2 separate regions of the Homo sapiens genome follow, and region 1 is linked to region 2. A link means that fine-mapping ties the variant in region 2 to the expression of a gene that starts in the linked region. Tissue or cell type: uterus. Region 2 holds a variant in brackets; the other region holds the start of a gene. All regions are shown on one strand. Distances are between the middles of the regions.

Evidence for each region. PIP is the estimated chance that this variant, and not a neighbour inherited with it, causes the effect.
Region 1: MRE11 starts here. The variant in region 2 is fine-mapped to the expression of MRE11 in uterus (GTEx, PIP 0.94).

What each region holds. Positions count from the first base shown.
Region 1 is chr11:94,489,174-94,497,177 of GRCh38, forward strand. It overlaps MRE11 (MRE11 double strand break repair nuclease), which reads right to left and starts at 4,671. Exons shown (of 20, transcript NM_005591.4): 1 at 4,618-4,671; 2 at 3,609-3,733; 3 at 1,660-1,792. The coding sequence starts at 3,628. ANKRD49 (ankyrin repeat domain 49) reads left to right here and starts at 4,811. Exons shown (of 3, transcript NM_017704.3): 1 at 4,811-4,862; 2 at 7,431-7,778. The coding sequence starts at 7,521. RefSeq lists an enhancer at 5,021-5,110.
Region 2 is chr11:93,553,268-93,561,531 of GRCh38, forward strand. It overlaps a transcript of SMCO4 not described here and the pseudogene RN7SL223P. Among named protein-coding and RNA genes, the nearest start is that of SMCO4, 14 kb to the left of the region's middle. The variant T/G (reference allele first, on the strand shown) is at 4,716.

The DNA of each region.
Region 1 (8,004 bases), 940 kb after region 2:
GTGATAAAACAGTGCTTGGAAGTATCAGGGAAGACGTCTCCAAAAAGGTAAGACTTGAACTCTCAGAAGTCGGCCCCACCAAGATCAATGTGCTCCAAGCAGAAAGAACTAGATGTGCAAGGGCCTCAGAGTAGAACATGCCGGTGTGGATGTAGCACTGTAAATCAGGCAGAGAGTAGTAGGAGATGAAGTTTCATGGCAGGGGTCAAGATCAAGTCGAACCTTGTAGTTTGAATTTTATACTAGATTCAATGGAAGGACACTTGGAAAATTTTAGGCAACAGAGTGCCATGATCTGATTTATTATTTTAAAAGTTCACTTTGGCTGCTATGCTGAGTAGATGTAGCAGAAAAGAATAGAAGCAGAAAGATGGAAGGGGACCTCCTGCAGGCCATGTGAAATGTGATCGTTTTGGACTAAGTTTATTAGTGTGAAAAGAGTAGTAGAGAGGAACCATATATATTTGGGAGGAAGAACTAAGGACCTAGCAGATAAACTTAAGAGAACTCTCCAGAAAAGTCAAGGCTGGCGGTGTTAATTTGCAAGTCAATTTTTACATTTATTCTCCAACTCTCTCCTGGGCTGGCGTGTTAACTGCCTGCTGAAATTTTTCCCTGAATGTCCCATTGCAGTCTCCAACTCTAAGTTTGTCGAAATCAAACAAAGAATTTGTCACCTTCCCACATGAAGCAGTACCTCTTCCTTATCTACCTATTTCTATTTTTGGTACAACTATTCACCCAAACTCCACACACTTCAGAGTCACTGTCATCCCTTTGCCCTCATCCCCACCCCGCTACAACTAACCAAAGTACACAAATCCTCTTTTTGCAGTATCCCTTGCATTCATTTCCTCTTTTCCATCCCTAAGGTCAATACTTCAAAAAAAGCCTCTAACTGGTCTCCAATTCATGGTATTATACTCCGCTGCCAAAAGACTTTCTCTTGAACTGGATACAAATTTCTCAATCTGATATTTGAAGTCCTCATTAATGCAGCTCAAATCCTTCCTTCTAGTCTCTCAGCATGCTTGCTAACTATGACCTGCTGGTGAGCCAAATTGACTACAGGGCCCCTAACATACCTTATACTGTCTCACGGGTTTCCTCACTCCTGCTTCACATGGATGTACATTCTCTATGCTCCCCACTGGCCAAAAGTCTACCCTTCCTCCAAAGCCCAAGTTAAACACAACCTTCTTCATTAAACTCATCTTGCTATAATCTAAACGTGATTTTTTCTGCCTCTAAACTCAAAGGAAATGTTATTTAGAATTTTCTTAGGGCTCCTATCACATACAACCTTGCATCTGTGGATTGTGGATATTTGTCTTTCACACCAGTTTTCTTCTACGTTATCTGAAAGCAGAAGCTTTGACAGTCACCTTACATTTCGAATAGACACTGCCACAGGATCCTGCATTCAGTAAACACCCCAAAAACATTTGTAAATTTTAACAGACTATTTACAAAAGTAGCTCCTACTTGAATTTAAGACACAAAGCATACAAAATCAGCTTTGAGCTTTCAGTATATTGATATTCAAGCAGGCAAGGTAAGCACCTGAGCTTATAAAACAAATCTCTAACTTTAGAAGGAAAAATAACTTGTTAACCAAGGGAATATGGTAGATAGTGCACAAATACAAACCACACTCACTTCATTTTCCTGGGCAAGTCTTAAAATTTCATCGAGTGTTACAAACGTATCATTTCCTCTGACTGCATCTTTCTCCATAAATCCAAGATGAATATCTGTTGCAACTAATATTTTAAATGTGTTTTCATCATCACTATATTAAGAAAGAAGAAACATTTCAATATATTAATAATTCATTAAAGGATATTCAAACAAATTGAGACAAACTTATAAAATAAATAATAACAGTTATAGAGTAAAATCATTTTTTTTAGCCTTAGAGTTCATCTGAAAATCTGAAGTATTCAACGTTATCATTAACATTACAGTTTTCCTAACCACTAGTTCAATACAGAACAAATGTACATAAATCTTTACAAGGTTCTATAACTGCTTCAAAAATTTATAACCTTGTTATAACCAGTTTTACAAACTCATGTAACCCAGGCCCAAAAGTTTGCTTGTTTTCCTCAGATAAATAAACTTGTTATTTATCTGACTTCGTACTCTTCCAGGAAAATCGAAGTTAATTTAAAAAGCCTTCCTCTAAGTTTATGAGTCAATTTTATACTAATATGCAATAATTTACATTCAGGGCCTTGAAGACACTTGCATGACTCTACTCTCTACAGAGTTAGATTTCATTAATAAAGTTGGCCAACACAGAATTGTTTCAATTTGAATTTGGTAATATTCAAAGGTACTTTAATGTGAAGTAGCAATGTAATAGTTATTAATACTCTTACACTAAATTTAATTGTATGAAATACTTTTATTTTTATGATCTCATCTCAACCCTCACAGATAAAGAGTCAGGCATTATTATCTCTGACAAATGAGAAGGCTAAACCCAGAGAAATTAACTGCTTTATCACATAACTAGTGACAGAAACAGGACTAAAACCCATGATGAAAACTCAGGCTATTTTCAATAAACCACAATGAATTTTTAAAAAATCTCTGTATATATCTCCAAAATTCAAATCTTTACAAACAAAAGATATTTCCACAAACGATTTCTCTTCAAAAACTTCAAAAATGATATGCACACAGTTCTCACTGATATATCCAAGAAGGTAGGTCAGATACTTTTCAAATCATAATACTACATGTTTCTGTAGCAATTTATGAAGTATTTTCTCATGAATTCTCTCATTTAAGCCTCAAAATTAATCTGAAAAAGGTATAATTATTCCAATTATACCAATGGCAAAATTGAGGCAAGGCTCAGAGAACTGCTGACTTGCCCAAGGTCACACAGCTAGTAGGGTCCAAGGACTTGAAACTAGGGTAAAAGACTCCAAGTCTAAAGTCTTTCCCACATAACTTTTTTTTTTTACGATCTCGGCTCACTGCAACCTCCGCCTCTCGGGTTCAAATGATACTCCTGCCTCAGCCTCCTGAGTAGCTGGGATTACAGGCATGCGCCACCACGCCTGGCTAATTTTGTATTTTTAGTAGAGACGGGGTTTCACCATGTTGGTCAGGCTGGTCTCCAAATCCTGACCTCAGATGATCCCGCTAGCCTCGGCCTCCCAAAGTGCACATAACTTTTACAGTCCTTTTATTTATTCCCATTCCATTCAAATTCATTTCCAGCTTATTTAATACTAGAGGAATTTACTCTAAAAATCTTAAACAGAACTGCATTGACTAATAAGAATTTGTCAGGAAAATTCAAGAATATTTATCACTTCAATAATTTAAGATGAAGCCTAAGAACATAAACAATACTATATCAATATATCAAATTACTGCAAGACTCCAATCTATAGCTGCATATTAGCTTCCAGTTAACAAACAGATAAATATTTAAAACATTCCAAATACCCTTTTTGATGACTAATATTTCTGTTCATAAACAGGTTCCTTATTTACTGCTTATTAAATAAGTTTTCTTTTACTGTGATCACAGTTGACGAGCTTTAGAAACCCCAAATAACAAGGGATTCCAGAAGTCAGGTGCTTACAGTGCATCTGCAGTACTCATTTTTATGGTCAGTCAAGCTCCTCTGGGACCAGGTTCTTCTCCAAGAACCCCTGGGTACTGTACTCAAATGTCAGAAAATGCACTCGATTCCAAATTCTAGAAATTCTAAAAACAAAATTACATCATAAAACACATTTTTTAAAAGCCTGCACGTATTTAACCAACATGATTTACGCTGCACAAGGTACAGACGTCTTAATTAGACTGGCAAATTTAGAAGTCTCATTTTCATCTAAGCACCCACTATACTTTTTTTTAATGAACTGAGCATAGAAAATAATATATCTCCAGTGTACATCCTGTTTCCTAGTTTCACCAAGATGATTAAACTCCTATTTTCCTTTCCCGTGCTCTTATGGGAAATTAATGTATGCTAAATAAATGGGCAGAAAGGGTCACATACGGTTCTGGTTCAACACACAAACAACTCTAGATGTGCAGATATTTTTAAGTTGCACGCATAGGTTACTCTGGAGAACAGAGGCAATCCTGTATTTCCTATTCAAACCCCACGATTTTTTTTAAAGGACCTGGCTAGTTTGGAAAAGGGAACGGGCCCGCGTTTAAAGCGAGTGTAAATAAACAAACACGTGGTCTGCGGAGGAACACCTTTAAGCACCAGCAGGATGACTGAAAATAGCCAGGTTTGGGGAAGAGTGGCTGCCACCGCGAGACAACCCCCACCACATCTGGAGCTCCAGATTCCGTCGGGATTCCAAGCCTCAACACGCCCTCACCGCAGGGAACCTCGGAATCAGAACGCTGAGCCCGCCAGGACCCCTCCCCTGCCCACTCGGCCCGCTCTTCCCGAGGTTCCAGTTAACTCTGGGCTTCCGCCTGGGAACCTGCAGAAACAGGAGACGAATGCGATTCCTAAATTACCCCACTGCTGGACTCTTCGAAGCCCCACAATCGCGACCCAAGGCTGTCTTCTTTTCGGGAAGAAAGGGCAGGATCCGTGAAAAGAAAACAACACGGTCTGAACTTGCCTCTGAGAACCCGCAGGGCCGTAAACCTGAATTCCGCGGGAGAGAACGGCGTCCGTTTCTCTCGCGACACTTCATGGATAACGTAGATGCTTCAAGTCCAGTTCGGCTCTCATTGGCTACCGCACGCAGTGAGGGGGCGGGGAAAGTAGCGGCGAGGCCCCGCCCTCACGCAGGAGCCAATCCTGAGCAGGCTAGGAGACGAACCCGGAAGTGAGATGCAAGGCGGCGATTTTCCCTTCTGTCAGGTGGGTTGTTATTCCCTGTCCCGGACCTCGCTTTTTGATGGACCGGCGCCATCTAAGAACTCCTGAGCCCGTGGGGGTGGGTAGCCTGTGGACACAGGCCGAGCCCTGCAGGTCAGGCCGCTTCGTGGTCCCCAGGTAGGACCGAAGCCGCTTCTCCGCTCTTGGCTGTTTGGAAGGCCGCAGGCGGAGCTCACGGGCCTGTGAGCTCCCGGCTGGTGGCAGAGTGCCGGAGCTGGATCCCCTCTCCCTCCCTCCCAGTCGCCAGACCCTCTACAGGTGTCGCCCCTAGGTCCTTGAGTTCAGCACATCTGCACTGCTTTGTGCTGAGAGCAGTAAGATGTATAGTGCAGCGAAAAATAATGTAGAACTTTTGAATTAGAACGTCTGCCCTTTCAGTTCCATTGAAGGGTCCTTGATCTAGGGCAAGTTGTTTTAATCTATCTGAACCTCCTTCACCAGTAAGGTTTATAGCCCCGCCTATCACTGAGTTGTTTGTAAGGAGTTGACATAGTTCGGATCTCTCTCAAAATAGGATATGCCCTTTAAGTTAGGAAACATACCCTGACATTCCTGATGGAATATCAGGAATATCATCATCAAGTCATCAGTTTTGTTTCTTAACTGTAAGTCGGGTAGATGCGCCTAGGCTTGGCTTTTTAAACTAAATATACCAGTAAAATTTTGTACATAATTTTTTGTATCTGGATCTGTAAACTCAAAATTTATATAAAGGGAGTTTTTATTGAAAGGAAAAGCATGTTGGGGGAGAGGGTAAGATCTGTGGTATAAGGTTACTATATTTGATATAATTACAAGTGAACTTTTATTTATTAGCATCTGTTAAGTGTTTAATGAATTGATGTATGGTCATTTTTGTGTTGCAAGGTTCAGGAATTAGTTTGAGAATCAAAGAAAAAGTGGAAGCTCCAGGAGAATTAATAAAACACAGAGCAATTCTGATTGGATATCTCTGATTCCAAGGGTGTCTCTGATTGGGTGACTGAAAAGCCGGATTGGCCTTAGGAATACTTTAGTAAAATTCTTACATTTTACAATAAAGTAACAGGACCAGAAAAGTTACTGGACATGAGTAATACATTTAAACTTGAGTTTAGTGCTATTGCCACTAGTAATAAAGTTTAATACCACATTAAGATTGTATACTGTTAAACTTGTGAGATTAGGTATCAAGAAATCAGTATCTTGGGGTTATGCCTAACTCTGGAACTTCTCAGAATCCATTCCAGGCAAAATCAAGTGACAAGACTTTAATTAAATGTAATGCTACACATACTTCTTAATGCCTTCTATAGACAAGTAGGAGATAAATATAAGTTAAATGTGGTCCTTATCTTTCAGCTTATAATCTTTTAAGGGGCTAAAACAAGAACAAAGTTAGAGGTGAAATGTAGCACCAAAAAAAGTAGAAAGCAGAAAGCGATCTAAATGAGAGGATCAAGAAAGAATGAAAGAGATAACATCAGAGAAGAGCCTTGAAAGACTGATTATATTTCAACAAATAGAGTTGAGAGGCTGGGAATTCGTATTTGTAAATTATCTATTGGTTATTCTCCTTTTCTTTAATTGATTAAGGTTTATATGTTGTGTAACCCTTTAAGCTGATATTGGTTTAAAAATTAATATGGCAGCTTAGCAGAATAAACATCAGTTCCTTCAGGAAGCCTTCTTTAATCCCTTAGGACTAGGGGAATTATGAACCTCCTGTATACTCATGGTTTCTAGACAAGGTCTTGTAGTAGTACTTATCATGTTGTCTTTGCCAGACACATGATGTCTTTGCCAGTCACCTACACTAGAGTAAGCTTCCTGAGGTGAAGACATGGATCTTGCTCATTATTGAATCCCAGTACCCAGAAGTTGGCACATACCAGACATTCTATTCATATTAGTTGAATGAAGGAATGAATGACAGCCAAAATTCAGTTGAAAACAAGGACCCAACTAAGAACTATAGTTGCCTATCAATAAACAGGACTACTTTTTAAAGCAGTGAATTTTCCTAGGCCTGAAATTATCAAAGTAGAAATAGGATAATTAGTGTAGATGCTGTGATAAAGATATATGTACCGATGACAGATTGGAACAGATGTCCTTTTGGGGGCTATTCCATCTTCAAGAATCCCTGATTCTTCGAAATAGTATTTTTAGGAATTAGAAGTTTTTATTTCTGCTCTATATTATCTGTGTGTCTAGTTTATAAAAATCTTGAATGCACCTGTCTTCATTGTATTAGTTATACTTCAAAACCTTTAAGCATTCATCACTGTTAGCATAACACCATCATACCTAAACCAGTAGATTAAAAATAATAGTTATAATAATATAATTGACTTAGAAGAAAACAACAAAAGTAAGAAGCATTAGACCACTATTAGATCATAGTTTGTTGTTTTCTGTCAGCATCAGTATTTAGTGTATGTAAGGGATATCATGAGAAAAACAAGAGTTTAGACAGGGTTTAATTGTATATGTTTGCAAGACTTATCTATGCAGTTGATAAAGCCTGAATTATTGTTTTACTAATAACTTTTGTATTTGTGTTTTCAGATCTTGATGAACAAAGCAGTCATAATTCATCTCTAGAAAGATTTATATCCTGGCATTTGAAATGCTTTTTATTTAGAATAGTAGTAAAAAATGGAAAAAGAAAAAGGAAATGATGATGGAATACCAGACCAAGAGAATTCCTTGGATTTTTCTGAACACTTTAACCAACTTGAATTGTTGGAAACACATGGACACCTTATTCCTACTGGTACTCAAAGTCTTTGGGTAGGCAATTCTGATGAAGATGAGGAGCAAGATGACAAAAATGAAGAGTGGTATCGATTGCAAGAAAAAAAAATGGAAAAAGACCCAAGCAGATTGCTTCTTTGGGCTGCTGAAAAAAATCGGGTAAAAAAAAAAATTACAGAGGGAAGTGTGACAGTAGGAAAAGCACTGGGTTCAAGCCAGAAGACCTGCCTTTACTGTTATGGCCATCATACCTATCTCTTGATTGTGAGGACCAAATGAGACAATGTACATGAAAGCACATATTAAGCTGCAAAGTGTCATGCTAGGTATTATTTGGGGGTTTAAGGATAATTATCTATAAAGATAGCAAGCAATCATCTATATT
Region 2 (8,264 bases):
TATCTGCTGATGAGTTTATTTTCCCAGTGAGATGGTCTACAGGCAGCTTTGATCAGATTCTCAAAGGGGTCTATGGCTGAAAATGGATTAGAAACAATTGATCCCAGAGCAGGAGTTCTTAATAAGTCTGTGTATAAACTCAGATGGGCAAAAATTATATCTTTGTTTGTACTAACTTCCATTCATGGTTGCTTATTTATGAATGTTGGTAACAAACCACAGTATTATTAGCAATTCCCATGAATTTGCTACCAGTAGAAATCAGATATTTTCATATCATGTTACAGTGTTGCAGATCTCAAAACATAATTTACACCTTTCACTGCTTTAAAATTACAGTGTTAGTAGACCCAAGCTAGATCTTGTTATTCAATGTGTTAATAAAGAAGCATATATATTACTTGATCACCAGATACTTTAATATTTTAAAGCTGCATCTTAACATAACTGGTTTCCTTGGTAATCTGTATGCTTTAGTTTCTTCAAAACATTATTCTAAGTAGTCCAAGGGCTTCATCAGACTGCCAAGCCTATAATACCAAAAAGTCACTAGCCCTCTTAGGAAAATCTTGGTAGGACCAAGCCTCCTAGCCTTACCTTTATTTGCTCTACAAAGCCAGGTTCTATCTGGTAGTTCCTCTCCTTTCAATAACCTGACATCTTGGTTCCCAGCATTGCAACTTCTGAATACTTCCAAAGCAGCAGGCATTGCCTAAGTCCAGAAAAACACAAACTTATACAAACCATAGGACAAAACAAGAGCAAAAAGAGAGAGAAAGAGAGAGAGATCCAGAATAGGTGGATCCAGAGAGGCAGAAAGCAGATTGGTGGTTGCAAGGGCCTGCAGCGAGGGGGAAACAGGGAGTGACAGCTTAATGGGGGGATTGACCCCATAATGGGTACAGGATTTCCTTTTGGGGTGATGAAAATGTGTTGGAAATTGATAGAGGTGATGATGGAACAGCACTGTGATGGTACTGGATGGTAATGAATTACATATGGCAAAAAAGCTAATTTTATGTTCTACGAATTAGCATTCATTAGCTCAATAAAACAAAAACAAATAAGAAATAAATAAATAAAAGGCAACTCCATAACAAATTCACCTGGGAATTATGTAAAGTCCTACTTAGGGGAATAAAGAAAAAAATAATCCCAAAGTTTAACGGTATTCTATTTCCCTTTTTCCCCCTCAACCCACCCTCCCATCAAGTTGCTTCTGTACGCTGCAATTTGAGATCACTTACGAAATTGCTAATGTGTACTTTAGCCTACATATTAAATTCCGGTTTGCACTTATGCATATTAAAACACACCACTAAATACTCATCTGACAAGCTATATTTTAAACCCCAAACTAGGCTTTATTGTGCCTGGATGCATTTTTAATATACCCACTAAATTTCAGCCAGACTGAAGACTGGCTGGCAATAATGATTTATAAGGGAGGGTAGAGTCCCTCACTTTCTATCCCAGAGTCCGCTCCCACTTGAGGGTCTGGGGGTTGGCAGCCCCCTACTGCCTGCTGGCTCTGTGGAGCTTTTAGGAAAAGATTTCAAGCACGATCTCACGGCCTCAACCAGGATCTGAAAGATGACTGAAGGGCTTCCCATTCTGGTAATAGACCCCACCCAGGACCTCAGCATATCCCATTAGAGCTCGCCAGCCTCCAACACAGCAGGATTGGATTGGCTGTCCACCGGCCCCTCTCATATCCTCCTCCATCGTTCTCTCTCTGCCAGGCTTTTGAAGTTCCTTTTCCTGCTCACGAACCCTGCTGGCACCACATAGCCTACAGGATAGTGTCCAAGTGCCTCAGTCGGGAAAGCAAGAACTGACCTTTTTTTGAAGCCCCACACAATAGAAAGCTTTCATATCAAGCACCCCATTTAACTTCATGAAAACCACGACTAGGCTTATTATGGCCATTTAGGGATGAAGACACTAAGGCAAAAGATCATATAAAGTCACACAACTGGTCAAGCTTTCACCACATTTCTATTTCTCCTTCCTTTCCAACATTTTCTCTACCACTCACTCCTTTGTGTCAGCCAGGCAGGCCCCCTACTCACTGTCCCCTGACTGTCACACCTTGCCCACAGGGCCCCTCCACCTAAGGGCCTCCCCTTTCTGCATTCCAAATCCCACCCATTCCTCAAGGTTTGGCTCAAGTCTCCCCTTCTCCAAAAAGCTTTCTTAGACCCCAGTTCTCTCCCCATCCTCTGAATTTCCACTTATTACGCCACTACTCCTTGAACATATCCAGGTATTGCCTGGTGTGGAGTGTGTGTCTGGCCTCCTCCAGTAAAAACTAAACTCCCTGAGGACAGGAATTGTGTCTTATTCCTTTTGTATTTGCTACAAGTACCCTGTAGGATTGAGAGATCAAAACCGCTTGATTCTCTCAATCAGCAAGAGATTGATTTTTTTCAGGCCAAAGCATTGATCCTTTTTCCCAGTTTCTGTACTTCTCCCCTGTCTCCTGCCACATTCCCTACACAAGTCTCACGGGGCTCCCAGTCATCCTCTCCAGGCCGCCCTGCACAAGAGAGCCCCGCCTTGCACAGGGCTCCTTCCCTGCTGCATCATCTCCCCTAGATGCAGCCTGCTTCCTTTCCAGCTGGAGGATGAAGAAGGTTCTTTTTTCCTTTTACATGTCTAATGACATTGTTTTTTTCAGACAGGGACTTTGGGAAAAGTCATGGCAATGAAGTATGGAGCTTATTCAGAGAATGAGCAGGTTGTGTCCTATCTCCAGGTGTGTGACAGCTGCCAAGAGGGTAGTATGTGGACTGTTTTGGCAGGAGAAGGGGGTTCAGTGGTATTAAGCGCTCACAGGAAAGGACAGGGGCTTTGGGATGGGGGACACAGATGAAAAGCACTGTTGCCTGCATCATGTAATTTGACAGATACTGTAAGACTCCAGAGGTTCCCAACCATGTCCCTTTGAACTTATAATGTTTTCTTCTTTCCTTCTGTGTTCAAAATTCCTCACATTTTAGTTTTTCTCTGTTTTAGATGATGTGGTTAGCTAATATTTTGCAACAAAATTTATGTTTTCTTCTCTTTTTTTCTACCACGTCTTCTCCCACAACTTCCAAAAGTGCCTTATTTTTTCAGGGATGTGGCAGGGAAGAAATCAGGGATTAATCAGTAATATCTCTAGGACTTTGTTTTCCAAAGTCCTCTATCTTTTGAAGACCTAAGAGGGTTCACGAAGGAGGTTAAAGAAAGAGGCAATTCATAGAGTAACTTGAGCATTTGAATCAAGGCATTGGGAATAAGAAAGGATCCTCCCAAGACCATACAGCCAACCCCAGGCCAAGGCAGAAAAGAAAGAGGGTGTATGATTCCAAAGAGGAATAGTTGCAAGCTCAGATGTTCAAATGCCTTCAAAGAATCAGAAGGTATTATGAACAAATAAATGAGTAAAGCTGGTAAAGAGACAAGCGGGAGTGGTAAGGATTAAGTCTACCTGGGGTTTTATGTCCTAAGTATATAATTTTGTTTAAAAAATGTATACTATGCTGGTGAAAAAAACACATCTTGGGCTTCATTCCACCCACTGGCAATCTCTGAATCTAGCTAGTTGTGATAGCCTTGTAAAAGATTTTTGTGCCTCAAGCATGAAATAAAATCTGCAGAGCCAGCCACAGTGCTGTGCACCTGTAGACTAAGCTACTCCAGAGGTGGGGCAGGAGGATTGCTTGAGCCCAGGAGATCTGTGCTGTAGTGCACTATGCCAATGGGATGTCTGCACTAAATGCAACATCAATATGGTGACCTCCCAGGAGCAGAGGACCAGCAGGATGCCTATGGAGGGGTGATCCAGCCCGGGTCAGAAACAGAGCAGGACAAAACTTCCATGCTGATCAGCAGTGGGATCACATCTGTGAATAGCCACTGCCAGTCTGGACAACATAGAAAGACCCTATCTCTAAAAAAATAAATAAATAAATAAATAAATAAATAAATAAATAAATAAATGATACAGAGAGGCAGTAGTTCTAATACAGCCCTGTAGACAGCAGAAAACTGTAAACCAATGACCTGGTAACAAGGGAGACATCTCCCCACATCAGATGCCTGGGGAATGTGAATGACCATGGAACTGTGATCTAAATTCTGGGCTTGGAGGGGGCAGAGAAAGTCCAAGAATGGCTTAGGTTAAGTAGCCCTTCCCCAGCTACAAGCCCAGTGGGATGGGAAAAATTAGGTTAATTTATAAAAATATTTTAAAGGTACAATATTTGTGTATAAAGTTGAAATTCCTATAACTACAAACATTGAAGGATATGTTTGGGTTAATTCAATTCTCCATACATCTACTCTGCACTGCCTATATATCTCTGCTGTGTGTATATGTGTCTCTTACATAGATATTGAATTGAGTTGTACTGTAATGGATCTGTCCCATTTGAGTCTTGGAATAAAATAAAGCCACATCCTTGTGTTCAGAAGATGGAGTCACATTTAGAGTAATGGACACTTCTGGTGTTGGTGGTCCTGAGAAACAGTGGAACTTGGAAGAAGTGAGGGATTAGAAGACAGGACTTAGACCGGGGTAAGGAAAGAATGTCTTCCTTTCTCTGATATGGCTCTCTTGAGCTCAAGCTCCCACAAGTTTAGCAAGGCTTGAATGTCCTACCTGGTAGGGGGGATGAAAAATGACTCTTGCCATTTGAAGCTGGATAGGGAGGCAGATCTGGAGGGGC[T/G]CCCCAAGGATGGGCAGGTGCAGGTGATTAGAACAACCATTTATTCACCCAAGAGTTTCATGAATCATTCTATGCTATTAGCACAAAGCTTTAACTTAAGCACAGCTGTTCTGAAAGATACTAAAAGAAGAGAATTGGCCCATCCTTAGGGTAGAAAGGTAAGGACTTTTATGCCACCTAAGGTCATGACAGCAGTGGAAGCAGCAATCGAAGACATTCCCTAGAAGAAAGTGACGTTGGAGGAACAAGTGTTAGGCCTTTACAGGGATCCTTTCACAATTGCCCACCTTGAGGGATCACAGAGTGTTATTTTATTAAGCCAGTTGGTGAGTTCCTTGGTCAGACACAGCTGAATTCTGAGGGATGACTAAGACAGAGCCTCTGCCCTCTAGAAAAAGTGGACACATTTTTATGGTGGGGGAGCTTAAGTATGATATGTCTTAAAAAAAATTTAGAGTGTTTCTCTAAAGAAACACTGGATGAATAGAATATTAGGGACAAAGGTGTAGCTGGGAGTGTGTTCCAAGTGGAGTAGACAGCAGGAACCACGGCATAGACATGGGGAGCCCCTTTTGATCAGGAGAGATGGAGCTACACCCTCTGGCTGTATCATAGAGACATGAAAAGAGTGAAGCCTGGAGAAACAGCTGACATCACAACAGGCAAAGCCTCAGTTGCAAGGGAAGACATTTGCTCTTAATCCGAAGACAAAAAAAAAAAAGACTATGCACTTTGAGACTTCTTAGTTACAAACAACCATTCCAGGGAGTTTAAATAGAAAATAAATTAATTAAAAGACATTACAGACGTGTACTTGTACAAAGAATAAATTCTGCAGACCCAATGTACAGCACAGTGACTATAGTTAATAATAATGTACTGTGTACTTGCAATTTGCTAAGAGAGTAGATCTTAAGTAATCTGATCACCAAAAAAAGGTAATTATGTGATGTGAGAGATGGGTTAACTAACCTGATTGCAGTAATCATGTCACAATGTATACATATATCAAAACATCATGTTGTATATCTAGAATATATACTATTGTTATTTGTCAATTATACCTCAACAAAGCTGAAAAATTGGGGGTAATTTGAGTAAAAATATTGAGATACTGGGTAATTTACAGGAACTCTGGGAGGGCAAAGAACAAAACTTGAAAACCAAGCAGTTAATCCACCCTCTGTGCTAATTCCATGGAGGCCCACATTTACTACCACCAGGCACTAGACGCAAGACCTCATCTCTACTTCCAGAAAATGGATCCCACTCCATGTGGCTTCCTGGTGGTGCTCTCCTCTGAACCTAAGTCTACCGAGAGCAGTCTATGGGCAGAACAAGGGTCCTGGGCCTGTGCTCCAGCTGCAAGGGATGCTGGGTAAGAGTTTCTAGCATCTGCCTTGGGAAGGCAGGACTCCTAATTGCACATTTCCCTAAATGTAAAAAGGCTTTCAGAAGATGCTGAGCAGCAGTAAAGCATAGAAAATGTCACTACAATTGCCAGTAAAGTTTTTCGAGAAGGAGAGTAAACATAATCTAAGCACATGTTAGGAAGATTAATTAGAGGTTGGATGGGTAATGCCCACATGTTTTCTGGGAAGACTGACCCAACTGGAGAAGGGCAAGGAAGTCCTGAATGAGTAGCCTTCATTCTACTTCTGCAGAGGACTAATTGTCACTCTGTGGACAGTTTGACAGGTCCAGGGAGTCAGAATGGCAGGACAGATAAGTCAGGAGTAGGGTAGGATAGTAAGAAAGCATCTACAGGAGGAAAAGACTGAAGGTGAGTGGGGAAGTGGACATGAACGTGTTGACAAAGGTCAGCCTGACCAGCTCCCTGAGTTGGGGCAAGCCCAGGTGAGGCCCAGCACCAGGCCATGGAAATCCAGCCACTACAATGCCAAGTGAAAGGTGAGAGTTTAGAGTTTAGACTGGTATTGGCAGAGCCACATGAGAGATGAAGGAAGAGCAGCCAGGAGCTGCGAGTGGGCAGGAAGTGGGGATGAGTGGCGTCCACTGCAGGTTCTCCCTGCAGGACAGAGCTCCAAGCCAGAAGGGAAAGGAAGCAGAGGAGTGCTCTGAAAAAGCAGCAGCCCTGCAGCCGAGGGACCGAGGGGCTGAACGGTTTCTCCACTGAGAGATCCAGTTCTCAGGTAGGAACTGAGAATCAGAAACAAGGGAGAGGCACATCCTGTTTTACGAGAAAAATCAAGGTCTTCAAAGATAACTGTAATAGGTTTCCATTTGTCTGTTTTTATTGTGGTAAAATATGTGTAACATAAAACTTACCGTTTTAACCAATATAAAGTGTACAATTCAGTGGCATTAAGTACACTCACAGTGCTATGCAGCTATCACCACTATCCAGGTCCAGAACATTTTCACCACCGCAAATGCAAACTCCACCCTCATCAAGCAGTTGCTCTCCATTCCCCACTCCCCACCAGTCCCTGGCAACCACTCATCTGCTCACTGTTTCTATGGATTTGCCTATCCTGGATATTTTATATAAATAGAATCATGTAATATGTGACCTTTTGTGTCTGGTGTCTTTCTCATGGCATGTTTCTGAGGTTTATCCATGTGATAGCATATAATGGTCAATTTTATGTGCCAATTTGACTGGGCCATAGAGTGCCAGGTATTTGGTTAAACGTTATTCTGGGTGTGTCTGTGAGGGTGTCTCTGGATGAAATTAACATCTGAATTGATGGCCTGAGAAAGGAGGTTGCCCTTCCCAGAGTGGGTGGGCCCCATGCAATCAATTAAAGGCTTGAATAGAACAAAAAGGCTGTGTAAGAAAGGATTTGTTCTCTCTCTATATGAATGTCTTCCAGTGAGACATTGGTCTTCTGCCTTTGGACTTGGACTCAGAATAGACCTTACACCATTGACTCTCCTGGTTCTCAGGCCTTTGGATTAGGACTGAAACTATACCATAGACTTTCCTGGTTCTCCAGCTTGTCAACCAAAGATCTTGGGACTTCTCAGCCTCCATAATTGCATGAGTCAATTCTTTTTTTTTTTTTTTTTCTTGAGACAGGATCTGGCTCTGTTGCCCAGGCTGGAGTGCAGTGGCACAATCTTGGCTCACTGCAACCTCTGCCTTCCGGGTTCAAGCGATTCTCCTGCCTCAGCCTTCTGAGTAGCTGGGATTACAGGTGCCCGCCACCATGCCTGGCTAATTTTTGTATTTTTTTTTGTAGAGACGAGGTTTCACCATATTGGCCAGGCTGGTGTCAAACTCCTGACCTCAAGTGATCCACCCACCTCGGCCTCCCAAAGTGCTGGGATTACAGGGATGAGCCACCACGCCCAGCCTCCAGTTCTTTATGATAAATCTCTCTGTGTGTGTGTGTGTGTGTGTGTGTGTGTGTGTGTGTGTGTGTGTATACATATATACATACACTCATACATATATCCTATTGGTTCTTTTTTTTTGAGAATCCTCACTAATACATAGCATGTATCATTACTTTATTTCTTTAATGGCTGCATAATATTCCATTGTATGGATATATCACATTTTGTTTATCCATTCATCAGCTG